Linked DNA regions of Homo sapiens. The protein of the gene in region 4 interacts with the protein of the main gene of each other region in a pairwise test. Each region holds a gene or a part of one and is shown on either strand. Other genes may lie near its edges.

Evidence for each region.
Region 1: the proteins of CCDC138 (region 4) and KRT27 interact in binary tests that used the Homo sapiens proteins (3 or more experiments, as listed by UniProt).
Region 2: the proteins of CCDC138 (region 4) and FAM161B interact in binary tests that used the Homo sapiens proteins (3 or more experiments, as listed by UniProt).
Region 3: the proteins of CCDC138 (region 4) and CEP57 interact in binary tests that used the Homo sapiens proteins (3 or more experiments, as listed by UniProt).

Annotation. Positions count from the first base shown.
Region 1 is NC_000017.11:40,774,654-40,779,550, forward strand, and holds the end of KRT27 (keratin, type I cytoskeletal 27), read right to left. Parts: coding exon 4,849-4,897; intron 3,080-4,848; coding exon 2,862-3,079; intron 2,650-2,861; coding exon 2,600-2,649; intron 2,486-2,599; coding exon 2,346-2,485; 3' UTR 2,155-2,345; downstream 1-2,154.
Region 2 is NC_000014.9:73,932,544-73,941,197, reverse strand, and holds part of FAM161B (protein FAM161B), read left to right. Parts: intron 1-144; coding exon 145-272; intron 273-3,085; coding exon 3,086-3,250; intron 3,251-3,496; coding exon 3,497-3,596; intron 3,597-5,109; coding exon 5,110-5,249; intron 5,250-6,803; coding exon 6,804-6,942; 3' UTR 6,943-8,654.
Region 3 is NC_000011.10:95,806,993-95,815,646, reverse strand, and holds part of CEP57 (centrosomal protein of 57 kDa), read right to left. Parts: intron 2,716-8,654; coding exon 2,536-2,715; intron 2,180-2,535; coding exon 2,058-2,179; intron 1-2,057. UniProt on the Homo sapiens protein: Centrosomal protein which may be required for microtubule attachment to centrosomes. May act by forming ring-like structures around microtubules. Mediates nuclear translocation and mitogenic activity of the internalized growth factor FGF2, but that of FGF1.
Region 4 is NC_000002.12:108,809,945-108,818,598, reverse strand, and holds part of CCDC138 (coiled-coil domain-containing protein 138), read right to left. Parts: intron 5,969-8,654; coding exon 5,891-5,968; intron 5,780-5,890; coding exon 5,672-5,779; intron 2,659-5,671; coding exon 2,494-2,658; intron 1-2,493.

The DNA.
Region 1 (4,897 bases), on a different chromosome or scaffold from region 4:
GATGTCTCTGCTAATCTCAGACCGACTGGAGTGAGCATGCACGTAGTTTCTTTATCCCTTCTCTTGTTATAGGGAAGGTGGAGTCATAAAGTTCTCACTAGCATGGTATTATGTCGTGGTGAAGCACCAGACTCTGAGCTATTCTGTGTGGTTTACGTATTTCAGCACTTCATGTTATTACTGTGTGATCTTGGGCAAATTATTCAACCAGTCTCTGCCTCCGTTTCCTTATCTGTAAAACGAGGACGATAACAGTACCTACCTCATAGGGTTGTTGTGAGGAATAAATGATGCTTAGAACAGAGTCTAGCACCTAGTAAGTGCTGGTTATCAACTATTATTGACTCTTTCCTGGAAGTCATATTTAAAGGTTTTAAATATTGGCCTGGTTTTAGCAGAAAGAATTTATTTCCTGAGTTATGGTGAGTTGGTGGTCAGGCGTTTCAAATACTGTGAAATCTGAGCTAAGTATTCGGTGGCTCACGCCTGTAATCCCAGCACTTTGGGAGGCCGAGGCAGGTGGATCACGAGGTCAGGAAATCGAGACCATCCTGGCTAACACGGTGAAACCCCGTCTCTACTGAAAATACAAAAAAATTAGACGGGCGTGATGGCAGGCGCCTGTAGTCCCAGCTACTCGGGAGGCTGAGGCAGGAGAATGGCTTGAACCCAGGAGGCGGAGCTTGCAGTGAGCCAAGATGGCGCCACTGCACTCCAGCCTGGGCGACAGAGCGAGACTGTCTCAAAAAAAAAAAAAAAAAAAAAAATTAAAGACTTTTTAGTATTACCGTTTACTCTTAGTGTTGTATATTCTACGGGTTTGGAAAATGTATAATGACACGTATCCGTTCTTATGATATTATCCAGAGTATTTTCACAGCCTTAAAAATCCTCTGTGTTCTGCCTGTGCATCCCTCACCTCCAATTTCTGGCAGCCAATTATCTTTTTACTATCTCCATAGTTTCGCCTTGTACAGAATGTCATATAGTTGGGGTCATACAGTATGTAGCCTTTTCAGATTGGCTTCTTTCACTTAGTAATATACATTTAAGGTTCCTCTGTGTCTTTTCATGGCTTGATAGCTCATAGCTTTTTAGCACTAAATAATATTTTGTTGTCTAGAGGTACCACAGTTATTTATCCATTCGTCAACCAAGAGGACATCTTGGTTGCTTCCAAGTTTTGGCAATTACGAATAAAGCTGTTATAAACATCTGTGCACAGGTTTTTGCGTGAATGTAACTTTTCAACTCTTACGTGGTAGGATGTTTCCTTTTCCTAATTTTGATATGAGGGTATATGATGTGAGGACTGGTTAATTAAAAAGTTAAGTGAGAGGGTATCTGCCTTACATTCGCTTAGGTATTATTACATGCGTGTGGGAAAAAGAGGAGGAAAGACAGCTTGAAAGTGACTGTGTTTCAACTGTGCTGAGCCAATTCTACAGAGTTCAGTAATAGGACACTGGTTCCAGAGAAAAACAGGCTGTTTCTGTTACGGGATTGGTGAGGGGGAGCCAAATCTCTCACCCACAAATAAACCTCTGGAGGGTTTTCTGCTGAGTTTAACCTCCTCCCACTCCCAGCCTTGAAATAGATTCATTAATGGTAGGTGCTGAAATTATTGCACTAAAAGTTACCTTTGACTTGAGAGCCACATGGCTCTGCAGTCTTGGATGGCAAAAACGAAGGAGAGAACTTGTGAATTCCTACCGTTATGGTGGAGTGATCAAGATTATGAATTAGATGCCTGCTGGAATTCTCCTCTTACCCTTGTCCTCACAGCTCTCTTTTTCCCCTTCTACCTTCAAATATCACTACTTATAGCCTTTCCTTTATGTTTAAGTTTGTTTCTGATTCTTCAGGTTCTTATTTCTACATCTATGAGCATATTGACTTCAGGGACTGGATCTTATTAACTGTTTTATCCTCGTTATCTGGCACATAGCGTGTTCTCAGTAAGTACTTTTCGTACTGAGACAAAGGAGACAAAATTTTACAGAGAAGTCAAAAAGACTCCAACTAGTTTTCACATTAAACTTACTTCCAACTTGTGAAGACTGTTGAATTAAACAGAAGAAATTAAAGACAAAATTCAGCTTCCATTTGGGAGGGTATATCTAAAATGCAAAGATTGGCCAGAACCAGGGAAGATGACTTGCAACAGGAAGAACTTTTATTGAAACACCACCATAGAGAAAAAGCCAAAGAAATGGTACTATTCTAAAAATAACTTGTCTTAATTCATTGGAAGAAAAGCAGAAAAATAAGGGGACCCTTATTTAGGAAACTAGCTTCATTTTGGTATTTTAATTTGGGGGCCATTCTGTCTCAGAGGCTGGAGTTCAGGAAGACACCCTCTGTTCATTCTTGTTGTTGACTTTGGTGGATTTCTCTTCCACAGTGTGAACTCTGGATGAGAGAACTTTGCCACGAGGATCTATCTCTTCAACAACTGTTTTGACAATGGTGGTTTTAGATGAATCTAAAATGCCACATATAAACTGTTTAGAATTTATCAAATTCATAAATAGGAAATAAAACATCATTTGAAACACATACAAATAAACACTGAATGCCTAACACAGCTTTTGTTTACCTTTTGTTTGATTTCCTGGGCCTCCATAGCCTTTTGATTTAGAACAGGAGCTGTAAAAGTATAGAGCGCTTATATTAATTATTCTGTTTTACTGAGGAAACTGAAAAATAATGATTTAAGGTGGGAATTCACTGCATTCTGAAATAACACTAAAAGAGTATTATCTATGCGTGATCTAGATCATAGATATTTTGTACTTGATTTCAAATCATCTTTAGTAACCTTAAAAATGAATTGTTTTCTCAATGGCGGCAATACTGACCCATCTTCTCCATCTATCAGGAGGCAGTAGGTCTCAATTTCTTTTTCCAGGTGGACCTTGATGTCAAGGAGCTGCTCATACTCGAGCTTCTGGCCCTCGGTCTCGGTTCTGACCTGGTGCAGCTGCTCCTCCAGGGCCCCGATCTGAGCCTGGATCTGTGCCAGCTGTGCACAGTAGTTACTCTCGGTCTCTGTCAAGGAGCACTCCAGGGAGTGTTTCTGTAGTTTGGTAAGACATGGTTTAATAGAAAAGGTCACGGTGTTTTAGAATAAGCCAAAGCATTTAAGAGATAATTAAGAGAATTATCCTTACATCATGCAAATAATTATATTTACCCAAAAGATTCCACTTCTTCAATATTAATTGTTGCCTTTATTAAATGTCCTACTACTTTTCTATTTGAGAATGACACAGCTGGTGCTGAATGTCCCTCAGATGCCCAGGTGTGCTAAAAAAGATGAAATTGTCTCTTCATAGGGCACAGACTGAAAGATCCCTCCCCTGCACCAATATAGCCTGTGCTTGTAGAGTGTGGCACAATTTGCTACTTTACCCACAACTAGAAGTCCGCCTATACTTTGCTACTCATTTCTAGCCATGTGACAGTCTTGTCTTATGAGGATTGTAGCTCTTCTATTAAAAAGTCATCCTGCAGTAAACCGCATAAACGTTCCATGAGTAGAATAAACCACAGAAAATAATTACCTTCTTAGACTTTAAATACAGTAGTTCAATTCATTGGCTTGTGAATCTGAATGGGTTTACAGATATACTCAGAGGGAACACTCACTGCAATTTTACATGGAATGAAGATGAGAGTGTCTTATCCTTTCACCTGCAAGTATTTTTTATATAAAGTCTTGATTTTATATACATTCATAGCCTCATCTGTGGATAAACTCTGGTGGTTTACTAGCCATAGTGGGAAAAGTATAGACTTGGGAGTTAGAAAATTTGGAGAGAACTTCTGGATTCCTTCATACCCAACTGTGGGACTGTGGGAATTGCTTAACTTCTTCGAATCTCAGAGTCCTCTTTTGGAAATAATGACATGAGTTATAACGTCTGCCCTGCCCATGCCCCGGGGTTGTTGTGGACTCACATGTGGGCGGAAGTGCTGGGCAAACCCTTAATGAAAGCAGTTATGATTATCATTACACATGTTTAGTTTTATAGTCAGCCTTCATGCCTCGACTTTTCCTCTGTCTATGCCACTTACAAAGGAACTTGTAAGTGCTCTTAATTGAGTGGCCAAAAGGAATGCTAGATGAAGCTAGGAGTGGTGCAAATGTATTTTTGCTCTCTTTAAGCAGTAGGATTTTTTTTCTTTTTTTTTAAATGGACACATAAGAATTGTATATATTTATGGGGTTCCATAATTATATTTCAAAACACACAATGTGTAGTGATAGAATCAGGGCAGTTAGCATATCCATGGTCCCAAACATTTATCTTTTTTGTGTGTGTTGGGAACATTCAAAATCCTCTCCTTGAACTATTAGAAATTATAGAATAAATTATTCTTAACTGTAGTCATTCTACAGTACTATAGAACACTTGAACTGATTCTCCCTATTTCTCTGTAATTTTGTATCCTTTAACCAACCTCTTCCTATCCCCCCATCCCCTTCCCAGGCTCTAGTAAGCACTTATCCCACTCTCTACTTCTGAGATCAACTTTTTTAGCCTCCACATATGAGTGGTTTTTGATATTTTGACTTATGATAGAAGATTCAAAGTCAAAACGATTTTCTTTTTCCAGTATCTTGACTGTATTTGCTAATTTCTAATATTTCATAATTATTGGCATCCAGCTATACTTTGTAGGCAAAGAGGATTGTCATGTGCAAAATGCAAATATGTCTTATGTCAAGCACTGTAATTAATGGTTAAAAACTAAAATATGTAATTATGTTGGAAGAAAATTCTCTTCGATTATTTTTTTCTCAATTTCTAAAGCAAATCTGTTTTGTAACTTTTCGCTTACCGTTGCTAAGAGGGACTGAAGTTCAATCTCAAGGGTTTGAAGAGTGCGT
Region 2 (8,654 bases), on a different chromosome or scaffold from region 4:
TGCAGTGAGCCGAGATTGCGCCACTGCACTCCAGCCTGGGCAAAAGAGCGAGACGAGACTCTGTCTCAAAAAAAAAAAAAAAAAAAAAAGATAGAAACTAATCACACATGCTGTCCCACCAATACCAACCTTTGTTTCTTCTAGGATTCCCCACAGCCACCAGCTACACCCCTGCCAAGGAGTCGTTCTCTGAGCGGCCTTGCTTCCCTCTCTGCCAACACTCTCCCTGTGCACATCACAGATGCCACCAGGAAGAGGGAATCTGCAGTCAGGTGAGTGGTCAGGCTGCACGAGACCCATGCTCTGATTCTGGCCCCAAATGCTGGAAACCTCCCTGCCAAGGGGCCTCCTTTCCTGTTATCAGAGATACCTCAAGGGGTCAAAGGGAATTTTCTGATCAGGACTGGAACAATTGCGGTTCTCCACACCTGGTGCTTGGAGAACAGCTAGCCATCATTCAGCACATATTCATAGTGGGCTTATTCTGTGCCAGGCACAGTGTTAAGGCTGGAGATCTTAGGGAACCTCCAGTTTATTATCTAGTCTGAAATACAGAAAAGCAAAGAAGCAATGGCCATATTTTTTGAGTAGTGCAATGATGGGGGGTAAAGGGGACTGTGAGGGCACTGGGCAGCCTGGAGCAGGGGGGTCTTGTCTTGTGGAATAGATGTCTAAAGTGAAACTGAAGAACAAGGAAGAGTTCGCCAGACAAAGCCTGGAGAGAAGGAAGGTTCCAGACAGAGAGAACATGGATAAAAGCCCATGGGTGAGAGGAAGGGAGTAGTGAGGAACAAGAATTCAGAGAAGCATGCTAGCAGGTGGCTGAAGTTGCCGCAAATATGAGACATCCATTGCATAGATTTGAGATTCTCTGAGATTCATCTTGGGAAGATGTCAGAGTCTGTTGGGCAGCAAGAGCCTGCTTATTTTTAACTCTTCAACTGACCTGATTCTGTTATGATGTTCTCATTAAGCCAGCCCCCAGCAAGGGTTCTTCCACCAGGCTTCTGAGCTGAAGTAGGCAAGAGAGGTCATGGTGTAACAGCAGCTTAGGCCAGGGAGAGGACTAATGTCTTACTGCCTTCCCATGGGGCATGTAGGGGAGTACTCAGAACCTACTTGGATCGTTAAGCCCCACAGCAGGGATTGTAGAAGAGTATTTACGGTCCAAGGGATACTCCTTTCTTCTTCAGACTTCAGTTAGACCTACTAAATCAGGGCTAATTAATTGCTCAGTATCCTGAGGGCCCAAGAACACAGGCCTCCTGAACAAAGAGGCTGGCCTTCCTATAGAGGACATCCACATCTGCTTTCCAGCCACAGGGAATCTGACATATTAACAGATTAAATTTTCATGTCCTTCTTCCCAGTATGTCCATTTGAATATAAACATCCAAATATAAGAGTCTTGGTTGATTTTCCTTTTGGAAGAACTCAACATATTACTTTGTAGATAACTGAACAAACTAAGTGCTACAAGTTGAACCCAAATAGTCTGCACTGAGGGAGGCTCATTTCCAGTTCTCTCTGAATGTGCAGATTTGTATTCCCAAAGGACCATGAACCCAGACACCTTCCAGCCCACTGTTTCCAGCAGAGTGGTCAAGGCCAGAGGCTTCGGAGTCAGAGGTCCTGGTCCAATAGGGGCTTTTCCACTGGCATGCTGGGTAGCTTTGAGCAAGGGGCTTACCTCCTTTGAGCCTCAATCACCTCCCCTATAAAAAGGGAATTTAGTATTTACCTCATAAGGCAGTTATGAGGACAATGTGAAATGTAATGGTACTTGGTTCATAATAAGGAGCTCAGTAAATGGTAGCTATTAGTATTATTTTGTATCCAGATAGGCGAAGACCTATTGAATGTTGGACTGTTTAAGTAAGGATATATATATTTTTTTTCGAGACAGAGTCTTGCTCTGTCGCCCATGCTGGAGTGCAATGGCGCAATCTCAGCTCACTGCAACCTCTGCCTCCCGGGTTTAGTGATTCTCCTGCCTCAGCCTCCCAAGTAGCTGGGATTACCGGCACGTGCCACTACACCCAGCTAATTTTTTTTGTAGTTTTGGTAGAGACAGGGTTTCACCATGTTGACCAGGCTGGTCTCGAACTCCTGACCTTGTGATCAGCCCGCCTCAGCCTCCCAAAGTGCTGAGATTACAGCCATGAGCCACCGTGCCCGACCTAAGTAAGGATATTTTAACTGACGTTTCTCCAGTTCAGTAAATGCACTTCTAGGGTAGGAACTCACTGTGTCCCTAGTGCTGGAAAGGCTTCATCTGCCAGTGCATTTAATCCTAGAATTTTATTATTTTTAAAAATGGCAGTTGAGGTAAATTACATGCCCCATTCATTAAAAACACCAACTTACTTTCCAGAAAAGGTTACTAAGATTGCTTTATTTTATTTATTTATTTATTATTATTTTTTGAGACGGAGTCTCTCACTGTCGCCCAGGCTGGAGTGCAGTGGCACGATCTCGGCTCACTGCAAGCTCCGCCTCCCAGGTTCATGCCATTCTCCTGCCTCAGCCTCCCGAGTAGCTGGGACTACAGGCGCCCACCACCGCACCCGGCTAATTTTTTGTATTTTTAGTAGAGATGGGGTTTCACAGTGTTAGCCAGGATAGTCTCGATCTCCTGACCTTGTGATCCGCCCGCCTCGGCCTCCCAAAGTGCTGGGATTACAGGCATGAGCCACCATGCCCGGCTATTTTATTTTATTTTATTATTATTATTATTTTTGAGACGGAATTTGATCTGTCGCCCAGGCTGGAGTGCAGCAGTGCGATCTTGGCTTATTGCAACCTCTGCCTCCCGGGTTCAAGCGATTCTCTTGCCTCAGCCTCCCGAGTAGTTGGGATTACAGGTGCACACCACCATGCCCAGCTAATTTTTGTATTTTTAGTAGAGCTGGGGTTTCACCGTATTGGCCAGGCTGGTCTTGGACTCCTGACCTCAGGTGATCCACCTGCCTTGGCCTCCCAAAGTGCTAGGACTACAAGTGTGAGCCACCACACCTGGCCTAAGATTGCTTTTCAGTATACCCAGGTTGGTAATCTATACTCTTTTTCTGCCTCCTTCCTTTAGAAGTGCACTTGAAAAAAAGAACAAAGCAGATGAGAGTATTCAGTGGCTGGAGATACACAAAAAGAAGTCTCAAGCAATGTCCAAATCTGTGACCTTGCGTGCAAAAGCCATGGATCCCCATAAAAGCCTGGAGGAAGTGTTCAAAGCAAAGCTGAAAGAGAACCGGTCAGTGTCCTCTATGTGTCAAAAGGGGTGCTTGCCTTGGGATCCAACAGACCACTGGCCTATTGCCAGAAAATGCAAAATAGAGTTATCGAGGTAGGTAGGCTCCTGTAATCACAGCAGGGTCATGATTTTCCAAGTCAGATAGGAATTTACAGTGTACACGAGAGTTACACTGCTTTACTGGAAATGAAGGGTATTCTGGATTAGAAAAGATGAAATTCTTTCTAAAAGTCTTGCTAATTCCAGGAACAATGACCGTAAAAGAGCGAAAGAATATAAGAAAGAACTGGAGGAAATGAAGCAGCGAATACAAACAAGGCCCTATCTCTTTGAACAAGTTGCCAAGGTAAAACTAAACCATCATTTGTTTTCTTTCTGCCTTAGATAAAAGGACTCTGAAAAATTACAAAACAATTTTAATATGTGGGTATTAAAATTTTCCTTGAGGCCCAGAAATTCTAATTTCACTACTACCTTCTTTTCCCAAAATAAATAGTACAATAGAGAATGCTGCTTGTGTTGATTTCATCCAAGAGTGGACTCCAAAGGCATCGATAAAGGGATATTTCACTTCCTAGAGCTTTCACTGTAGTCTACCATTCAGATTTCATCAGACTGGGCATTAGACCCCAGAGACACAGGGACCATTTGGCTCTTTCTATGCTCTGGAGCCACTGTTCACAGTGCTGGAAAGGTATCTCTCCTCTGGCAGTGCTGCTGGCCCTGGGCCTCCCCAGCCTCTAGAGCTGTGGTATATTTATAGGTCTCCAAGCATTAGGATGCCCACAAACACCCTGCAAGGCTTTCTCTAGACTAAGTGGCTTTCAGGCTGGAAGCCTGAAATTTTTTTTTCTTCTTTTATTTTGTATGCATGTGTATGTGTGTGTGAGTGTGTGTTCCTTATGGAGCAGGGCTAACCCATAGGCAGTGTACCCGAAGTATCCTGGAAGAGTATCATTTTAAGATATTCTCTGTAGACTTTTAGGGATGTTGGACTCAGCTGAGATCTCCGTAAGGATGTAAGGATGCTCTGTTTCTACTGCATTAGGCTCTGTGGATCTCTTTCCTCTCCAGTTTCAGACAAGTTGGGGTTCCATAGTGACCTAGTTCCAATGGCAGGGCATTAGCTCCATCTTATAGTTAGTACATTGTCTAGGCATTTGCTGGCTCCACTTCCTCCTCCCTCCATAAATCTTTCTCCTCTCACACACATAAGCACACATGGTCTTGGATTTACTTAGCAACCTGCATTGTTCAAAATCTCATGCTTCTTTATGTTAATGTTAAGCAAGCTCACTCTTCAGATCTCAACAGATCTTTCACCTCTCTAGGAAAAATACAAAGTACTCTATGATTTTGTTCTTGAATACTTAAACAAAAAATAATATTCTGCTGGTCCACATGCAGACCATCTGTCCTTCCACTAAGAGTCTTGGTGTAGCTTATTTTCTATTTTATTTTAGTGTTCCTGATAATGGTTTGTTGCTTTAAAATCTTAGGTTTTTAGTCCATCCTTTTAAATCTGGGTCTCATTTGTCTCCCAAAAGTCTAAGTCATTGCTTTTCAAAATTGTGACTCCCAAATCAACAGTTTGGCATCTCTGGGGAGTGTTAGAAATACAGAATTACAGTCCTCATCTGACACCTACCAAATGTGAAATCTGCATTTTAACAAGACCTCAGGTGATTTATATACACATTAAGGCTGGAAAACAAGGGTTAAATAATTTTCTTGCAAATCTATGCCCCACAATAAGGGTGGTGGTGGTTGTGGCAGTATTGTAACAATACTGATTAAGTAATTTAGAATTGTCTGGTAATTCATAAGACAGCTACAACAGATTAATTTCCATCCCACAGGATCTAGCCAAGAAAGAAGCAGAACAGTGGTATCTAGACACCCTGAAGCAGGCTGGGCTGGAGGAAGACTTTGTGAGAAACAAGGGTCAAGGCACCCGGGCTGTTCAAGAGAAAGAGACCAAAATCAAGGATTTTCCCAGGTAACCTGAAATGTTGCTGTCATTCTGCAGCTCTCTAAATTGTCATACCCAGTAATACCACTGGGAGGAAACTTTAGAATAGCCACTGGTATTTTGAGATCATAATCCTGTATTTATGTAACATTAATAAGTAATCCAGAGATCTCCAAGTAACACATTTGAATTTAGAGAGTGATGCAGTTGTGAATAAAATCTGACAAATTATGTTTCGTTTTCTTCCATTTTGAAACAGATCATTTTCCAATTCCAGTTCCAATTTCATGAGCTGAAACTATTTCTACTTTATTTTTGAAGAAAAATCATGTATATTTTGACTTCTTATAAAACTATAAAACTGTTTTTCTAGCATTCCTTAAAGGTAGCTCATTAGTATCACCTTCTCCATAACCTTTTTTTTTTTATTTTTTGTATTTTTTTTTTGAGACAGAGTCTCACTCTGTTGCCCAGGCTGGAGTGCAGTGGCGCGATTTCTGGCTCACTGCAAGCTCCGCCTCCTGGGTTCACGCCATTCTCCTGCCTCAGCCTCCCGAGTAGCTGGGATTACAGGCTCCCGCCATCACGCCTGGCTAATTTTTGTGTATTTTTAGTAGAGACGGGGTTTCACCATGTTAGCCAGGATGGTCTCGATCTCCTCACCTCGTGATCTACCCTCCTCAGCCTCCCAAAGTGCTGGGATTACAGGCGTGAGTGACCGCGCCCGGCCCTCCATAACCCATTTTGATATTGAGTCAAAGGGAGAAAATAGTATCTTCTCTCCATTATTCTCAATTGTTTTGTATCTTAAATCCTAGCAGCCCCTACCCTAATTCCTATCTCAGTTTTATACCCCTAGAAATTTTCCTTTACATCCCATATAAAATAGTAATAATGTTGAGACTTTTTTTTTTGAGACGGAGTCTTGCTCCGTCGCCAGGTTGGAGTGCAGTGGCGCAGTCTTGGCTCACTGCAGTCTCTGCTCACTGCAGTCTCCGCTTCCCGGGTTCAAGCGATTCTCCTGCTTCAGCCTCCTGAGTAGGTGGGACTACAGGTGTCCACTACCACGCCCAGCTATTTTTTGTATTTTTAGTAGAGATGGGGTTTCACCATGTTGGCCAGGATGGTCTTGATCTCTTGACCTCGTGATTCACCTGCCATGGCCTCCCAAAGTGCTGGGAGAGACCGTTCTTAAACCTTACACAGTGCTTTAAGACTTTCTTTTTTCAGACTGGGCACGGTGGCTCACGCCTGTAATCCCAGCACTTTGAGAGGCTGACGTGGGTGGATCGCTTGAGCCCAGGAGTTTGAGACCAGCCTGGGCAACATGGCAAAACCCTGTCTCTACAAAAAGTTAAAAAAAAAAAAAAAATTAGCTGGGTGCAGTGGCACGTGCCTATAATCCCAGCTACTTGGGAAGCTAAGGTGGGAGGATTGCTTGAGGTGGGAGGGTTGCTTCAGCTGGGCTGTCCAGGCTGCAGTGAGCTGAGATCATGCCACTGCACTCCAGCCTGGGTGAGAGTGAGACCCTGTCTGAAAAAAAAATTTTTTTTGTTTTTCATGTTTTAATTTATTCTGCAGGTTCCAAGAAACTACAAAACTCAGCATCAGAGATCCAGAGCAGGGTTTAGAAGGATCTCTAGAACAGCCTGCAAGCCCCAGGAAAGTACTGGAGGAGCTGTCTCATCAGTCACCAGAAAATCTCGTATCACTTGCTTAATCACTACACTTAAAATTACTGCTTTTGAAAAATATTAAGCAGCTAACTTGGGTTTGAGTCAAGGCAGGGAAAACTTGGGTTTTGAGTCATGGCTACTGTTAGAGGATGGACAAATGAAGAGTAGCAGATTAACAGGCCAGGCGCAGTGGCTCACGCCTGTAATCCCAACACTTTGGGAGGCTGAGGCAGGCAGATCATCTGAGGTCAGGAGTTTGAGACCAGTCCAGCCAACACGGCAAAACTCCACCTCTACTAAAAATACAAAAATTAGCTGGGCGTGATGACACGTGCCTGTAATCCTAGCTACTTGGGAAGCTGAGGCAGGAGAATCACTTGAACCCAAGAGGCAGAGGTTGTAATGAGCTGAGATCACTCCACAGCACTCCAGCCTGGGCAGCAGAGCAAAACTCTGTCTGAGAAAAAAAAAGAGCAGCAGATAACAGAGAATAGTTCAAGGAAATCAAAGTGGGGAGGCTCAGGTGGAGGGATGGTAGCCTAAAGTTAAGGGTTCCTGCTTTGTGCCTCACACTTAGAGAATTAGGTACAGAAAAGAGAGCACAGGCCCAAATGCCTATAAGGGGCTAGTGCAGAAACATAAATGCGTCCATGGAGTGGGTGTAGACAGTAGGAGATAGTAGACACTGGAAAGTATCAAATCCTGCTGGAATATAGGCTCAGAGTTACTACATCAACTACATTTTCATCAAGCCAGAAATTTGTATGCTATCAACTAATTTAAAAATTACTTAGAAATATTGTATGGGCAAAATAAAATACATCTGCATATCAGATCTAGCCCATGGGGGATGAAAAACTTACAACTTCTAGTACAGGATTTCTTATCCTCAGTGCTATTAATATTTTGGGCCACCTAATTCTTTGTTGAGGGTTGGGGAAGGGAACTGTCCTGTACATTGTAGAATGTTTAGTAGCATCCCTGGCCACTACCTGCTAGATGCCAGTAGTACCCCTCTCCCCAGCTGTGACAACCAAAAATGTCTCCAGATATTGCATATCCCCAGGGGGCAAAAATGTGCCTGGCTGAGAACCACTGCTCTAATATAAATGGCTGCATGAAGCAAAAACTGGCATTCTAAGAATACAAGTAATTGCCATGAACACAGTCTATGTACTATGTGATTATGCATGTCATTAACAAATTAAGAATTTAAAACAATTCTCTCCCGTTATCTGTTTAGAATGTGCCTGTGTGTTTATGTGAGCATGAGGTTCATTTTAAGTAAACTTAAAATTTCCCAGACAACCAAGATTTTCTACTAGTAGGTGAACTTTGGAATAATTTTCTTCTCACCAATAATAATTGGATATTCTGGCTCGGTGCAGTGGTTCATGCTTGTAATCCCAGCACTTTGAGGGGCCAAGGCAGGAGGATCGCTTGAAGCCAGGCGTTCAAGACCAGCCTGGGCAACACAGACCTCATTTCTACCAAAAAAACCACAAAAAGTTAGCTGGACTGGTGGTACATGCCTATAGTCCTAGCTATTCAGGAGGCTGAGGTGGGAGGATGCCTTGAGCGTAGGAGTTCAAGGTTACATTGAGCTATGATTACACTACTGCACTCCAGCCTGGGTGACAGAGCAAGACCCCATCTCAAATCATAATGATGATGAGTGGATATTTTCTCAGTAGCTGTGGAGACAGGATGACTGATAGCAAGAGTGCCTGCTCTAACTAAAGCACCTTTCTCAAGC
Region 3 (8,654 bases), on a different chromosome or scaffold from region 4:
GCCTAACCAAAGGCAAATTCACAACTGGCTCACAAGGCTGCCCACACAACTGAGGAATTTATTGTGGAATTAACACAATAAATGAAAAAATGAGACCACCATATAACTTTTCTTTATTAAGTTCCCATAAAAAAAAAGATACCATAAGGGAGAATCAATAAATAAAGCCAAACAAACGAGGATTAACACTTTGAAAACATCAAATAATTAAAAAAAATTGAGAATTGTTTATAGCGTTCAAAGAGATAGAAGGAAGGTATAAAAACCACAGAGTAACAGTACATTCAAAGAACAAAACTAAGTGGATGGAAAAAGACCCAAATGAAAATGAAAAATTATAACCACTGAAATAAGAGACCTATCACACACAAGAATTAATTACTGAGACATCTTCTCAAATACTGTTGTATGATTGCTCAAATATTTAAGTCTAATTCTCTCCAATGAGAACTGAAAGCTGACTGAGGGTAGAAAGCATACACGGTAAGCCCTCTGTATCTGTGTGTTTTGCATCCATGGATTTGATCAACTGTGGATTGAAAATATACGAGAAAAAACAAAAAAGGATGGTTGAATCTGTACTAAACATACACAGATTCTTACTCTTGACATTATTCTCCAAACAATATAGTACAGCAACTATTTACATAACATTTACATTGCATTAGGTGTTATAAGTAATCTAGAGATAATTTATAGTATATGAGATTGGGTGTAGGTTATACGCAAATACCACACCATTTTATAGGAGACTTGAGCATCCATGGATTTTACTATCCACAGGGGTCTGAGAACCAATTCACTCATGGATACTGAAGGACAACTGCCTAGTATTTTTTTTTTCCATTGCAGGGCATCTAGCATAATGTTAAGCATATAAACAATCCGATTTTATAATAGAGTTAAGATGTCTACAAAACTAATGAATGCAAACTCTAGATTCATAACAGAAAAAGGAGTAAGTTTTAAAAAAATATACACAAGGCTGGCCGGGCGTGGTGGCTCATGCCTGTAATTCCAGCACTCTGGGAGGCCAAGGCAGGCGGATCACATGAGGTTGGCAGTTCAAGACCAGCCTGACCAACATGGTGAAACCCTGTCTCTACTAAAAATACAAAATTAGCCGGGTGTGGTGGCACATGCCTGTAATCCCAGCTACTTGGGAGGCTGAGGCAGGAGAATCACTTGAACCCGGGAGGTGGAGGTTGCGGTGAGCTGAGATCACGCCGTTGCTCTCCAGCCTGGGCAATAAAAGGGAAACTCCGTCTCAAAAAAAAAAAAAAAAAAAATACACACAAGGCCAGGGACAGTGGCTCATGCCCGTAATCCCAGAACTTTGGGAGGCCGAGGCGGCCTGATCACTTGAGGCCAGGAGTTTGAGACCAGCCTGGCCACATCTATACTAAAAATACACACACACACAAAAGTTAGCTGGGCATCGTGGCATGCGCCTGTAATCCCAGCTACTCGGGAGGATGAGGCATGAGAATCACCTGAGCCTAGGAGGTAGAGGTTGCAGTGAACCGAGATCATGCCACTACACTCCAGCCTGGGTGACAGAGTGAGACAGAGTGAGATCCAATCAATTGATCAATCAATATATTTGAGACTGATGTTGAGATATCTTCTCACAAATGTACAGGTCACCTAAATACGAAGATCTCTGGTGTAAGAAAGCACAAAAATGCTATGCTAAGTAACAATTCTGAAGAGTTTTACAAAGTCATCTACTATCTCACTGGAGTCATTAAACAAATTTCAGAGATACAGAGGTATATGGTTATTTACACTTTTTATAATGTAGACTCAAAGAAGCTAACATAACTTTCAAACATCTCACAACTGTATTTTTACCATTTAAGTAAAACTCTACGAAACACAACAATAACAACAAGAAAAAGCCAATCACATATTTAGATTTCATAACTGATGCCAAGAAATTTCAGTCCTGGGCTGTAACAGCACCATTAATCCTCACCGAAAGAAAAAAAGTCTTTATTCAATTAGTTTTCCCCATAACTGTTCTTGAGTATCAATCTGTGAGGTGCTTTACTTACTTGTTTCTCTAAGACAGATGTCCTCTCCATTTCGGCATGCTTTATCATATTTCGCATGTATTCCAATTGTTTTTCTAATAGATTGCATTTATTTTCTGCAGCTAACAACTGAGATGTCAGTTCTAAAAAGAATACATAAGAAAAGCAGAAATCAACTCACCCATAAAATAGTTTTAACAAGCTGTTAACAGGAATTGGATCTATTGTGTATACAATAAAAACACCTTCCACAGACCTGGACGCCTTTTCAGATTACCTAAATCATTCTTTCTACGTGCTAGTCAAACTGGCCTTGCATTCAGTAAATAAATGCCATGTATGACAACAGCATTTGCTCCTCAAAATGCACCAGAATACAATGCAGTTTTGTAGTACTTGAAGATACCGCTACAAAACACTAATGTACTATTTCTTTTAGAATACTTAATACTGCACAACACTTATTTTGATAGAATTTTAATTTTCTTCATCAACAAACCTTGATTGTGCTTTGATTCCTCATTCTTTGAATTCTCCCTTTCTTGTATCTGTTCATCCAGTACTTTCTTATATTCAATTGTTTCTCTAGACAAGGTTTTCACACTTTCTTCTGCCTGAATCCTCTCAAGTTCCAAGCGTCGAATCTTATCTTGAAGATTCTTAAGAGCAGAAAATATGGCTGCCAAATACAAACACAAACGTGGATGCTGTAACAGCATATGCGGAGAAAGTATATTAAGAAAGAATAAACTCATCTAAATAAAAAATAAAATTGATGGATGAGTCCAGTGGAGGATCACTCTTTGGGAACAATAAAATGTTAATTATCTCATATTTGTTTTTTAAAAAATCAATTTAAAGACATTGAGTGGGCCGGGTGCGGTGGCTCACACCTGTAATCCCAGCACTTTGGGAGGCTGAGGTGGGTGGATCACCTGAGGTTAGGAGTTCGAGACCAGCCTAACACAGTGAAACCCTGTCACTACTAAAAATAAAAAAAATTAGGCAGGCATAGTGGCGGGCGCCTGTAATCCCAGCTACTCGGGAGGCTGAGGCAGGAGAATCGCTTGAACCCGGGTGGGGTGGGGAGTGTGGAGGGGTGGAGGTTGCAGTGAGCTGAGATCGCACCATTGCACTCCAGCCTGGGCGACAGTGAGATTCTGTCTCACAAAAAATAATAATAAATTAAAAAAAAGACATTGAGTGTTTGAAATGTGCTCAAGTAAAAACCCCATTACTATGGTAAAAAAATTTCAAAGACTTTTATAAAGTGGTAAAAAATTTAGCCAATCATACAAAGTTCACATAACAGTCCTAAAGTACATTACTGTCTTATTAATATATTACTTATTAATTAAAATTAGTAAATGTATTAGTAACTATTACTTATTAATACATTTTATTAATAGGAGCACATGTAGAAACCAACTATAGAGTTACAGTCAAGCACACAAAAATAATACTTTTAAAATCCGCATTTTAAGTACTTTCTAAAGTCCGCTTCAAGTTTGATTATAAAATTATGTTGACTGCAGTAAATGTAGAAGACTGAGAAAAAACACACTGAAAAATAACCAATAATCCTATTACCCAAAGATAATGACTGTCATTTGGTTATTTAAATTTTTTCCTATATGTGTAAAATAAATTGAGACAAAACAAATATGTAGGTTTTTTCACTTTAGCATTATTAAATAGTGAGAATTCCCTCAGGCAATCAGTCTTAAAAGATTTTCTAATGATCAATAATTAAAAACTAAAAAGTTACTGGGTCAAAGAAGAATCATAGCCATTCTAATGAGAAAAATATGCTACTCCTAGTTATTTTCCATTTCCATCAAAGTATAAATCTTTTCATATATGTTATTGGCTAATTTTCTCCCTTTCATGAATTTCCTTTGCCCATTTTTCTATGGGAAAAAGTTTTCTTCATTTTATTATCTGCCTTTAATTCTAGTTTTGATGTACAGATGTTTTGATTTTTCACAGAGGTATACCTAATTCTTTCCCATCACGTTTTTTTTTTTTTTAATTATACTTTAAGCTCTAGGGTACATGTGCTCAACGTGCAGGTTTGTTACATATGTATACATGTGCCATGTTGCTGTGCTGCACCCATTAACTCATCATTTACATTAGGTATATCTTCTAATGCTATCCCTCCCCCCTCCCCCCAACCCACGACAGGCCCCGGTGTGTGATGTTCCCCACCCTGTGTCCAAGTGTTCTCATTGTTCAATTCCCACCTATGAGTGAGAACATGTGGTGTCTGGTTTTCTGTCCTTGCAATAGTTTGTTCAGAATGATGGTTTCCAGCTTCATCCATGTCCCTACAAAGGACATGAACTCAATCTTTTTTACAGCTGCATAGTATTCCATGGTGTATATGTGCCACATTTTCTTAATCCAGTCTTGATGGACATTTAGGCTGGTTCCAAGTCTTTGCTATTGTGAACCGTGCCGCAATAAACATACATGTGTATGTGTCTTTATAGCAGCATGATTTATAATCCTTTGGGTATATGCCCAGTAATGGGATGGCTGGGTCAAATGGTATTTCTAGTTCTAGATACTTGAGGAATCGCCACAGTCTTCCACAATGGTTGAACTAGTTTACGATCCCACCAACAGTGTAAAAGTATTCCTATTTCTCCACATCCTCTCAAGCATCTGTTGTTTCCTGACTTTTTAATGATCACTTTAATGGCTCAGGATTGTCTTGGTAATGTGGGCTGTTTTTTTTGGTGCTGTATGAACTTTAAAGTAGTTTTTTCCAATTCTGTGACGAAAGTCAGTGGTAGCTTGATGGGGATGGCATTGAATCTATAAATTACCTTGGGCAGTATGGCTATTTCCACGATATTGATTCTTCCTATCCATGAGTATGGAATGTTCTTCCATTTGTTTGTATCCTCTTTTATTTCATTGAGCAGTGGTTTGTAGTTCTCCTTGAAGGGGTCCTTCACATCCCTTGTAAGTTGGATTCCTAGGGATTTTATTGTCTTTGAAGCAATTGTGAATGAGAGTTCACTCATGATTTGGCTGTGTGTCTGTTATTGGTGTATAAGAATGCTTGTGATTTTTGCACATTGATTTTGTATCCTGAGACTTTGCTGAAGTTGCTTATCAACTTGAGGAGATTTTGGGCTGAGACGATAGGGTTTTCTAAATATACAACCATGTAATCTGCAAACAGGGACAATTTGACTTCCTCTTTTCCTAACTGAATACCCTTTATTTCTTTCTCCTGCCTGATTGCCCTGGCCAGAAGTTCCAACACTATGTTCAATAGGAATGGTGAGAGACGGCATCCCTGTCTTGTGCCAGTTTTCAAAGGGAATGCTTCCAGTTCTTGCTCATTCAGTATGATATTGGCTGTGGGTTTGTCACAAATCACTCATATTGTTTTGAGATACGTCCCATCAATACCTAGTTTATTGAGAGTTTTTAGCATGAAGGGCTGCTGAATTTTGTTGAAGGCCTTTTCTGCATCTACTGAGATAATCATGTGGTTTCTGTCTTTGGTTCTGTTTATATGATGAATTACGTTTACTGATTTGTGTACGTTGAACCAGCCTTGCATCCCAGAGATGAAGCCAACTTGATCTTGGTGGATAAGCTTTTTGATGTGCTGCTGGATTCGGTTTGCCAGTATTTTATTGAGGATTTTTGCATCAATGATCATCAGGGATATCGGTGTAAAATTCTCTTTTTCTGTTGTGTCTCTGCCAGGCTTTGGTATCAGGATGATGCTGGCTTCATAAAATGAGTTTGGGAGGATTACCTCTTTTTCCATTGATTGGAATTGTTTCAGAAGGAATGGTACCAGCTCCTCTTTGTGCCTCTGGTAGAATTTGGCTGTGAATCCGTCTGGTCCTGGACTTTTTTTGGTTGGCAGGCTATTAATTATTGCCTCAATTTCAGAGCCTGCTATTGGTCTATTCAGGGATTCAACTTCTTCCTGGTTTTGTCTTGGGAGGGTGTATGTGTCCAGTAATTTACCCATTTCTTCTAGATTTTCTAGTTTATTTGCGTAGAGATGTTTATAGTATTCGCTGATGGTAGTCTGTATTTCTGTGGGATTGGTAGTGATATCTCCTTTATCATTTTTTATTGCATCTATTTGATTCTTCTCGCTTTACTTCTTTATTAGTCTTGCTAGTGGTCTATCAATTTTGATCTTTTCAAAAAACCAGCTCCTGGATTCACTGATTTTTTGAAGGGTTTTTTGTGTCTCTATCTCCTTCAGTTCTGCTCTGATCTTAGTTATTTCTTGCCTTCTGCTAGCTTTTGAATGTGTTTGCTCTTGCTTTTCTAGTTCTTTTAATTGTGATGTTAGGGTGTCAATTTTAGATCTTTCCTGCTTTCTCTTGTGGGCATTTAGTGCTATAAATTTCCCTCTACACACTGCTTTGAATGTGTCCCAAAGAATCTGGTATGTTGTGTCTTTGTTCTCGTTGGTTTCAAAGAACATCTTTATTTCTGCCTTCATTTCATTATTCACCCAGTAGTCATTCAGGAGCAGGTTGTTCACTTTCCATGTAGTTGAGTGGTTTTGAGTGAGTTTCTTAATCCTGAGTTCTAGTTTGATTGCACTGTGGTCTGAGAGACAGTCTGTTATAATTTGTTCTTTTACATTTGCTGAGGAGTGCTTTACTTCCAACTATGTGGTCAGTTTTGGAATAAGTGTGATGTGGTGCTGAGAAGAATGTATATTCTATTGATTTGGGGTGGAGAGTTCTGTAGATGTCTATTAGGTTCGCTCGGTGCAGAACCAAGTTCAATTCCTGGATATCCTTGTTAACTTTCTGTCTCGCTGATCTGTCTAATGTTGACAGTGGGGTGTTAAAGTCTCCCATTATTATTGTGTGGGAGTCTGAGTCTCTTTGCAGGTCTCTATGGACTTGCTTTATGAATCTGGGTGCTCCTGTATTGGGCGCATATATATTTAGGTTAGCTCTTCTTGTTGAATTGATCCCTTTACCATTATGTAATGGCCTTCTTTGTCTCTTTTGATCTAGTCCGTTTTATCAGAGACTAGGATTGCAACCCCTGCCTTTTTTTGTTTTCCATTTGCTTGGTAGATCTTCCTCCATCCTTTTATTTTGAGCCTATGTGTGCCCCAGCATGTGAGGTGGGTCTACTGAATACAGCACACTGATGGGTCTTGACTCTTGGTATCCAATTTGCCAGTCTGTGTCTTTTAATTGGAGCATTTAGCCTGTTTACATTTAAGGTTAATATTGTTATGTGTGAATTTGATCCTATCATTATGATGTTAGCTGGTTATTTTGCTCGTTAGTTGATGCAGTTTCTTCCTAGTCTCGATGGTCTTTACAATTTGGCATGTTTTTGCAGTGGCTGGTACCGGTTGTTCCTTTCCATGTTTAGTTGTTCCTTCAGGAGATCTTGTAAGGCAGGCCTGGTGGTAACAAAATCTCTCAGCATTTGCTTGTCTGTAAAGGATTTTATTTCTCCTTCACTTACAAAGCTTAGTTTGGCTGGATATGAAATTCTGGGTTGAAAATTCTTTTCTTTAAGAATGTTGAATATTGGCCCCCACTCTCTTCTGGCTTGTAGTTTCTGCCGAGAGATCTGCTGTTAGTCTGATGGGCTTCCCTTTGCAGGTAACCTGACCTTTCTCTCTGGCTGCCCTTAATATTTTTTCCTTCATTTTAACTTTGGTGAATCTGACAATTATGTGTCTTGGAGTTGCTCTCCTTGAGGAGTATCTTTGTGGCATTATCTGTATTTCCTGAATTTGAATGTTGGCCTGCCTTCCTAGATTGGGGAAGTTGTCCTGGATAATATCCTGAAGAGTGTTTTCCAACTTGGTTCCATTCTCCCCGTCACTTTCAGGTACACCAATCAGAGGCAGACTTGGTCTTTTCTCATAGTCCCATATTTCTTGGAGGCTTTGTTCATTTCTTTTTACTCTTTTTTCTCTAAACTTCTCTTCTCGCTTCATTTCATTCATTTGATCTTCAATCACAGATACCCTTTCTTCCACTTGATTGAATCGGCTACTGAGTCTTGTGCATGCGTCATGTAGTTCTCATGGCATGGTTTTCAGCTCCATCAGGTCATTTAAGGTCTTCTCTACGCTGTTTATTCTAGTTAGCCATTCGTCTAATCTTTTTTCAAGGTTTTTAGCTTCTTTGCAATGGGTTCAAATATCTTCCTTTAGCTCAGAGAAGTTTGTTATCACCGATCGTTTGAAGCCTTCTTCTCTCAACTCGTCAAAGTCATTCTCCATCAAGCTTTGTTCTGTTGCTGGCAAGGAGCTGTGTTCCTTTGGAGGAGAAGAGGTGCTCTGATTTTTGGAATTTTCAGCTTTTCTGCTTTGGTTTCTCCACATCTTTGTCGTTTTATCTACCTTTGGTCTGATGATGGTGACATGCAGATGGGGTTTTGGTGTGGATGTCCTTTTTGTTAGTTTTCCTTCTAACAGTCAGGACCCTCAGCTGCAGGTCTGTTGGAGATTGCTGGAGGTCCATTCCAGACCGTTTGCCTGGGTATCACCAACGGAAGCTGCAGAAAAGCAAATATTGCAGAATGGCAAACGTTGCTGCCTGGTCCTTCCTCTGGAGCCTTAGTCTCAGAAGGGGACCCGGCTGT
Region 4 (8,654 bases):
AGTTAATCTGGTACTACTTACTCTTCTATTATTATATTTAAAAGCTTATTTATACACCTTAAAATTGTTCTACCTTTATTATTATATAGTAATTAAGTTGAAAACAATATTTTAACTGAAAGGATCTAGGCTTAATAGAAACTGTAAATCCTGAACATGTCAACAGACAACTTTTTATTTACAGATGTTAAAATGAATCCTGAGAAATACACGTGCTAAATATTATTCTCTTGTGTTATTAGACTAATATAAAAACACAGTATTACATGATCCCGATTCCATTATTTTTCTTCAGACAGGGTCTCACTCTGTTGCCCAGGCTGGAGTACAGTGGTACAATCACGGCTCACTGCAGCCTCGACCCCCCCAGGTTCAGGTGATCCTACCACCTCAGCCTCCCAGGGAACTGGGGTTATAGGCGCGTGCCACCAGGCCTGGCTAACTTTTGTATTTTTTGTAGAGATGGGGTGTCACCATGTTGCCAAAGCTGATCTCAAACCCCTAGGCTCAAGCAATCCTCCCACTTCAACCTCCCGAAGTGCAAGGATTACAGGTATGAGCCACCGTGCCCAGCCCTCATCTAGTTCTAACAAATAAAATTTCTCTGCAGAACTTTAATACGGCAGGCCTTCCTAATTGGCAGTTACTTCTAAAATAAGGCTAGATTTAGGGAAATAATTGATGTAGGTACTAAGAGACAAAATTCTAAACAAAGGTGTATTTGTGTCCTATTGCTGCCGTAACAAATACCACAAACTTAACATTTAAACAACACAAATTCATTATTTTACACTTCTGTAGGTTCAGAAGTCTAAAATGGGTCTCAGCCAGCCAAAATCAATGTATATACAGAGCTGTGTTCCTTTCTGGAGGCTAAGGGAGGATCCATTTCCTTGCTTATTCAAGTTGCATGTGGAATCCAGTTTGCTGCAGTTAGAGCACTGAGATTTGTATGTCCTTTGTGACTGTCAGCTGAGGGCAATTCCCAGCTTCCAGAAGATATCTGATGGCTGGGCACGGTGGCTCATGCCTGTAATCCCAGCACTTTGGGAGGCCGAGGCAGGTGGATCACGAGGTCGAGAGATCAAGACTATCCTGGCCAACACAGTGCAACCCCGTCTCTACTAAAAATACAAAAATTAGCTGGGCGTGGTGGCACACACCTGTAGTCTCAGCTACTTGGGAGACTGAGGCAGGAGAATCACTTGAACCCGGGAGGTGGAGGCTGCAGTGAGCCAAGATGGCACCACTGCACTCCAGCCTGGCAACAGAGCAAAACTCCGCCTCAAAAAAAAAAAAGAAAAAAGATTATCTGAATTCCATGTCTCATGGCCCTCTTTCTCCATCTTCAAAAGCCAGCAAGAGGGGGTTGAGTCTCTGACCTACTCTTCTGAATCCTTCTGGTTTAAAAAGTTTGTGTGATTACCAGGACCACCCACATAATCCTGGATAACCTCCCTATTTTAAGGTCAGCTGATTAACAACTTTAATTCCCTTTTGCCATGTGCTATGGTTTGAACGTTTGTTTCCTCCAAAAGTCATGTTGAAACTTAATTCCCAATATGACAGTATTGATAAGTGGGGCCTTTAAGAAGTGACTGGGTCTGGGCACAGTGGCCCACATCTGTAATGACAACACTTTGGGAGGCCAAGGCAGGAGGAATGCTTGAAGCTAAGAGTTCAAGATCATTCTGTGCAATGAAGCCAGGTCTGATCTCTACAAAAATTTTTTTTAAAAATTAGCTGGCAAGGTGGTGTATACCTGTAGACCCTACTCAAAGGGATGAGGCAGGAAGACTACTTGAGGCTAGGAGTTTGGAGGCTGCAGTAAGCAATGACTGGGCCACTGCACTCCAGCCTAGGTGACACAAGGAGACCCCATCTCTAACACAAAAGCTTTTTAAAAAAGAGGTGACTGGGTTATGAGGGATGCCCTCATGAAAGCATTAATTCATCCAAGGGTTCATGGATTAATGGATTATCATGGGAACTGGACTGGTGGCTTTATAAAAGGGAGACAGACCTCAGCTAGCACACTCAGCCCCCAGCCATGTGATACCCTGCATCACCTCTGGACTCTGCAGGAGACCAGGAAGAAGGGCCTCATCAGAGGCAGCCCCTCAAATTTGTTTTTTGTTTTTTTCTTTTGAAACAGAGTCTTGCTCTGTTGCCCAGGCTGGAGTGCAGTGCTGCAATCTTGGCTCACTGCAACCTCCACCTCCCAGATTCAAGCGTTTCTCCTGCCTCAGCCTCCCAAGTAGCTGAGATTACAGGCACGTGCCAAAATGCCCACCTATTTTTTGTATTTTTAGTAGAGACGGGGTTGCACCACGTTGCCCAGGCTGGTCTTAAACTCCTGACCTCAGGTGATCTGCCCAGCTCGAACTCCCAAAGTGATGGGATTATAGACGTGAGCCACTGTGCCTGGCCCTGGCTTTTCCTTTTTTAATCTTCATATATTCTGAATCACATATTTCAAATTAAAAAACAAACCTTTACACACTTCTCCTGAATATCATTTCTCTGGGAAGCAAATTTGAGTTGTGGTTTTTTACCATCCATTCCAGATTCTTCATGTTTCACTTTGCTAAGATGATGATCCGAAATCCAGTCCATGAAGACAGTTAAAAGTTCATAAACTTGCCCATTAAGTGGTACCTATATGTCAAAAATTAAATCATTTATTTCAGTTCACAACTTCATAAAACTTCAAAGACAAACCTTAAATTTGTTAAGTAATAAGAATAATTTGACTAAAGTAATTCACTAAAATGTGTTAAGGACAGAGCTTCTCCAAACAAACAAAAGAATTCCAAATCAAACCTCCCCAACCTGCCTGGCGCAGTGGCTCAAGCCTGTAATCCCACCACTTTGGGAGGCTGAGGTGGGTGGATCACCTGAAGTTCCCTAGGAGTTCGAGACCAGCCTGTCCAACATGGCAAAACCTGTCTTTACTAAAAATAAAATTAGCTGGGCATGGTGGTGCATGCCTGTAATCCCAGCTACTCGGAAGGCTGAGGGAGGAGAATCACCTGAACCAGGAGGTGGAGGCTGCAGTGAGCCGAGATCGCACCACTGCACACCAATCTGGGCAAAAGAGCAAGACTCCATCTCAAAAAAAAAAAAAAAAAAAAAAACACCAAAAACCTCCCCAACTAATATTAAAAACATGTTAAATGACAACTGAGAGAAGGCAAGAAAAGTCATAATCAGGAAGTTGGAATAACTGTACCTTATTACTAAAAGAAAACTTTTCATAAAAATTCTTTATCCAAGTTTGATAAGATGGAAAAAAAGTAAAATTAGCCTTAACTTAAGAGCATGAATCACCACAATTAAAAGACTCTAAAAAAAATTAATGGTTTCCAGAGCTAAAGAATTTCCACTATGAAACTTATCTTTCTCTTCTCACAAAAATTGTTACTTTGTCTTTCCAGTATATCATTCAATACACATATGAACATTTTTTTCCTAGAAATCTTGTCCTCTGACAGCCTACCAAAATGAAAAGTAAAATAACAAAGTAATTTATAAATTTAATTAGACTAAGTATTATTACAAAACACATTTCTAATTTAATTCAATTTTTTTTAATAAGATACCACTACACATATCCACCTTAAGGAGGGAACTATGTTAAATTTATTTTTTTAAAAATCTGCAGGCCAGATGTGGTGGCTCATGCCTATAATCCCAGCACTTTGGGAGGCAGAGGCAGGTGGATCACCAGAGGTCAGGAGATTGAAACCAGCCTAGCCAACATGGTGAAACGCTGTCTCTACTAAAAATATAAAAATTAGCCAGGCGTGGTGGTGGGCGCCTGTAATCCCATCTCTTCGGGAGGCTTGAACCCAGAAGGCAAAGGTTGCACCACTGCACTCCAGCCTGGGTGACAGAGTGAGACCCCATCTCAAAAAAAAAAAAATTAAAAATATTAATAAATTAAAAAATAAAAAAACAAAAAAATTCAAAGACAGAGAAATATAAAAGCAAATTAATAAATAGGCAACATTAAGCCGATGGCAATCCACACAATCAGAATGACTAAAGACAAAATGATAAATAGTAGCATTACCACATTATTCTGAAGAGCAATTTTTCACTTTCTCAATTTTTTTCAAATAGAAACTAACTCCCTTTAGATGAAAACTTCGATTATCTTCAGTCCCTGAATATAAAGTCTGTACCTTTTCAATTTACTCCAATTTTCTCAATTTATAAAGAACTAGAAAATTTATCAAAATATCAAAATGATCAAAGCCCATAATAAGATACTACTACACACCCACTGGAAGGGTCAAAATGAAGAAAACTGAAAACACCAAATGTTGACAAGGTTGTGGAGCAACCAAAACTTTGATACACTGTTAATGGGAGTGTATCATTACACTCCCATTTGTACACAAAACAGTACAACCAATTTGGAAAACTGTCAGTTTCTTAAAAACATACATCTACCTTTATCGACCTTATGACCCAGAAATTGTAGTCCTGGTATATATCCAAAAGAAATGAAAACATACATCCATAAAAACTCTGTACACCAATATTCGTAGCAGCTTTATTTATTGCAGACAAAAACTAGAAAAAGCCCAGGTGTCTATCAACAGAAGAATGAAGGAACAAACTCTGATACAGTCATACAATGAAATACTATTGAGCAATAGTAAGGAACAAACTACTGATACACTCATAATTATGCTGAGAAAAGCCTTACACAAACAAGTACACACAATACAATTCCACTGACCAAATGTCTCAAACAGGCAAAACTAATTTCTGCAAAACTTCTGGCAGAAAAGAATGACCAGGAAAGGGTATTAGAGAACTTTCTAGGATAGTGGAAAGTTCTATATTCTAGGATAGTGGAAGTATTCTGTATTTGGTTATAGACAACATGAAATATTTATCAAAATTAATCAAACTTTACACTAAAGGATTTCTGCATTATGTTACCATATGTAATTTATATCTCAAATTTTAAAAATTCTTAGGGAAAAAAAGACATATGGAAATCCATTCAGGGATGGGTTGTAGTCTTGACTGAAATATAATAGCAAATGCTTGTGGAGTGTCAAAACATACTAAGCAATAAAGCCATTAATGATGTGTCAATGATACGTACCTGAAACACTGCTGAAATATAATAGTTTTGTTTTCACAAATGAAAGTATATTTTAAATATTCTTGAGATATTTCCCTATTAAAAAATTATTATGGTGAATCCCTTCCATAGCAAACATTCCAAAAAGAATGTTTGCTAAATCAAAGAGAAAAGATTAAAGCACAAGAGAAATCTTCCTGGCTTTCCATTGGAGAAATTTTCTTTTTTTTTTTTTTTTTTTTTTTTGAGACGGAGTCTCACTCTGTCGCCCAGGCTGGAGTGCAGTGGTGCAATCTCGGCTCACTGCAACCTCCGCCTCCCAGGTTCCAGCAATTCTCCTGCCTCAGCCTCTCGAGTAGCTGGGACTACAGGCGTGTGCCACCATGCCTGGCTAATTTTCTGTATTTTTAGTAGAAACGGGGTTTCACCATGTTGGCCAGGATGGTCTCGATCTCCTGACATCGTGATCCGCCCATCTCAGCCTCCCAAAGTGCTGGGATTACAGGTGTGAGCCACCGTACCCAGCCGAGAAATTTTCAATCATATCAAATCATAATTCAAACTTACCTTGTAAGTTTTTGAAACTGGTGCTTTTTCTTGTTTTAAACTTTTCATTTCATGAACAGCATGGGAACTTCCTTTCAATCTCTGTATTGTCATAAACTCGTACTTCCTCTGCAACAGTATATATGCGTGAATTAAAGAACAATTGTATCTAAATGAGTAAACTCAAAGGTAATCATCTAAAAACATACTTCTGTCTGTAGAGAAGAACAGGCAACTTACCTGTAAATTATCTAAACGAGCTTGAACTCTTTTAGCCTGAATGTCTATCTTCCTGTTTTCTTCACTTGCTTCATTTAACTAAAGGGTAGAAAAAGTTAGATATTTCAATATACACCTTCAACTGGTTTCATACTAAGGGTTTCCCAATCTACTATCTAATCTGGTTGATATTACTAACCAATGTAACAAAACAGAGACAGCATTCATGATTAACTTAGATCACAACTGAAGTTGTCGTTTTTCCCTAAAATATTAATGGTTTGTAAGATCATTTACTTCATTTTATGAAAAATGTACAAGACTCCAGATGTCTTAAAAGCATATACATATATTTTAGTGAAAATGTTTTTATTAATAAGTACACTGTTATCTGAACTATAACACATATAAAGAAAAGTATAAAATCCTAAGTATGCAGTACAATGAGCTATAACTGGGATTGCATTACTGGGACTATGTGTATATGTGTCTGTGTATATACTGATATGTATATATATATGGAAGAACTGACTTCCTATATATGGAAAGGAAGAATATTGAGTCTTCCTATCCATGAACATATCTTCAATTTATTTAGGTTTTATTTTCTTTTAATAATGTTTTGTAGTTTTCAAGTAGAGATGTCTTGCACATCTCTCTTTAGATTTATTCCTGGGTATCCAATTATTTTTTTATTATATTACTTATGGTATCTTACAATAAAATTTGTGATATATATACACCATGAATAGAATACTATGTGGCCATAGTAAAGAATGAAATCATGTCTTCTGCAGCAACATGGATGGAGCTGGAGGTCATTAATCCTAAGTGAAATAACTTAGAAACAGAAAATTAAATACTGTATGTTCTCATTTATAAGTCAAAGATAAACAATGGGTACACACATATGGACATAAAGATGGAAATAACAGATACTAGGGACTACAAAAGGGAAGAGGGGAGAGGGGTAGGGGTTGAAAATTAACCTACTGGGTACAATGTTCACTATTTGAGTGAAGAGTACATTTTAGAAGCCCAGACCTCACTGTTACACAATATATCCATGTAACAAAGCTGCACATGTACCCTCTGAATCTAAAATAATTTTCTTAAAAAATGAAAAGTGGCTTTTTGAAAAAATAAAAAAACCAACAAACCATGAGCTAGACTAAGAAAAAAGAAGAGGCTGAGTGCAGTAGCTCACACCTGTAATCCCAGCACTTTGGGAGGGTGAGGCAGGAGGATCACTTGAGCCCAGTTCAAGACCAGCCTCAGCAACACAATAAGACCTCATCTCTACAACAAAATTAAAAAATTAACTAGAGGTGGTGGTGCATGCCTGCAGTCCCAGCTACTAAGGAGGCTGAAGCAGAAGCGTGGTTTAAGCCCTGGAGGTTAAGGCTACATGTAGTAAGCCGTGGTCATGCCACTGCACTTCAACCTGGGAGACAGAGGGAGACAGTCAAAAAAAAAAAAAAAGAGAGAGAGAAAGAAAGAAAAGGGAGAGAAGAAATAGTAGCAAGGGAAGGAAGGGAAGGAAACAGAAAAGGAAGGCAGGGTTAGGGGGGTAGGGAAGGCAGAGGGAGGGGAAGAAGGGAAGAAGGAAAGAAAAAAGAAAAAAAAAAAGAAAAGAAAAAAGGAGAAAAGACCCAAACAGATAAAATCGGAAAAATCGGAAACAAAAAGGGAGACATTACAAGCAGTACCACAGAAATACAAGGATCACTAGAGACTACAGAGATCATTATGAAACAACTATATGCCAACAAACCGGAAAACCTAGAGGAAATGGATAAACTCCTAGGCACATATAACGTAAGACTGAACCAAGAAGAAACAGAAAACTAGAACAGACCAATCATAAGTAACAAGATTGAATTGTAGTAAAAAGTTTCCCAACAAAGAAAAGCCCGAACTAAATGGCTTCACTGCTGAACTGTACTTTTAAATTCACTCAATGACTTCACTGCTGAATTAAAACTTTTAAAGAACAAATACCAATTCTCAAACTATCCCAAAAAACTGAAGGGTAGAGAATTCTTCCAAACTCATTGTACAAAGCCAGCACTACCATGATACCAAAACCAAACCAAGACACAACAAGAAAACTCCAGGCCAATATTCCTGATGAACATAGATGCAAAAATCCTCAACAAAATATTAGCAAACCAAATTCAACAACACACCAAAAAGATAATATACCATAACCAAGTGAGATTTATCCCAGGGACACAGGAAGGCTCAAATATGCAAATAAAAAAATGTGATAATCACGTTTTAACAGAATGAAGAGTATAACAGAATGAAATATAATTACCTTACGATCATTTCAATAGACACAGAAAAAGTATTTGATAAAATTCAACAACATCTCTTCACAGTAAAAACTCTCAAAAAATTAGGTACAGAAGGAATGTACTTCAACACATTAAAAGCTATATATAACAAACACACAATTAACATCATACTGAACAGGGAAAAGCTGAAAATTTTTCCTCTAAGAACTAGAACAAGACAAGGATGCTCATTCTCACCACTCTTGTTGAACATGGTACTAGAAGTACTAGCCAGAGTAATTAAGCAAGAAAAAGAAATAAAAGACATCCAAATTGGAAATAACAGGCTGGGTGTGGTGACTCATGCCTGTAATCTCAGCAATATGGGAGGCCGAGGCAGGCGGATCACCTGAGGCCAGGAGTTCAAGACCACCCTGGCCAATACAGCAAAACCCCGTCTCTACTAAAAGTACAAAAATTGGCCAGATGTGGTGGCACATGCCTGT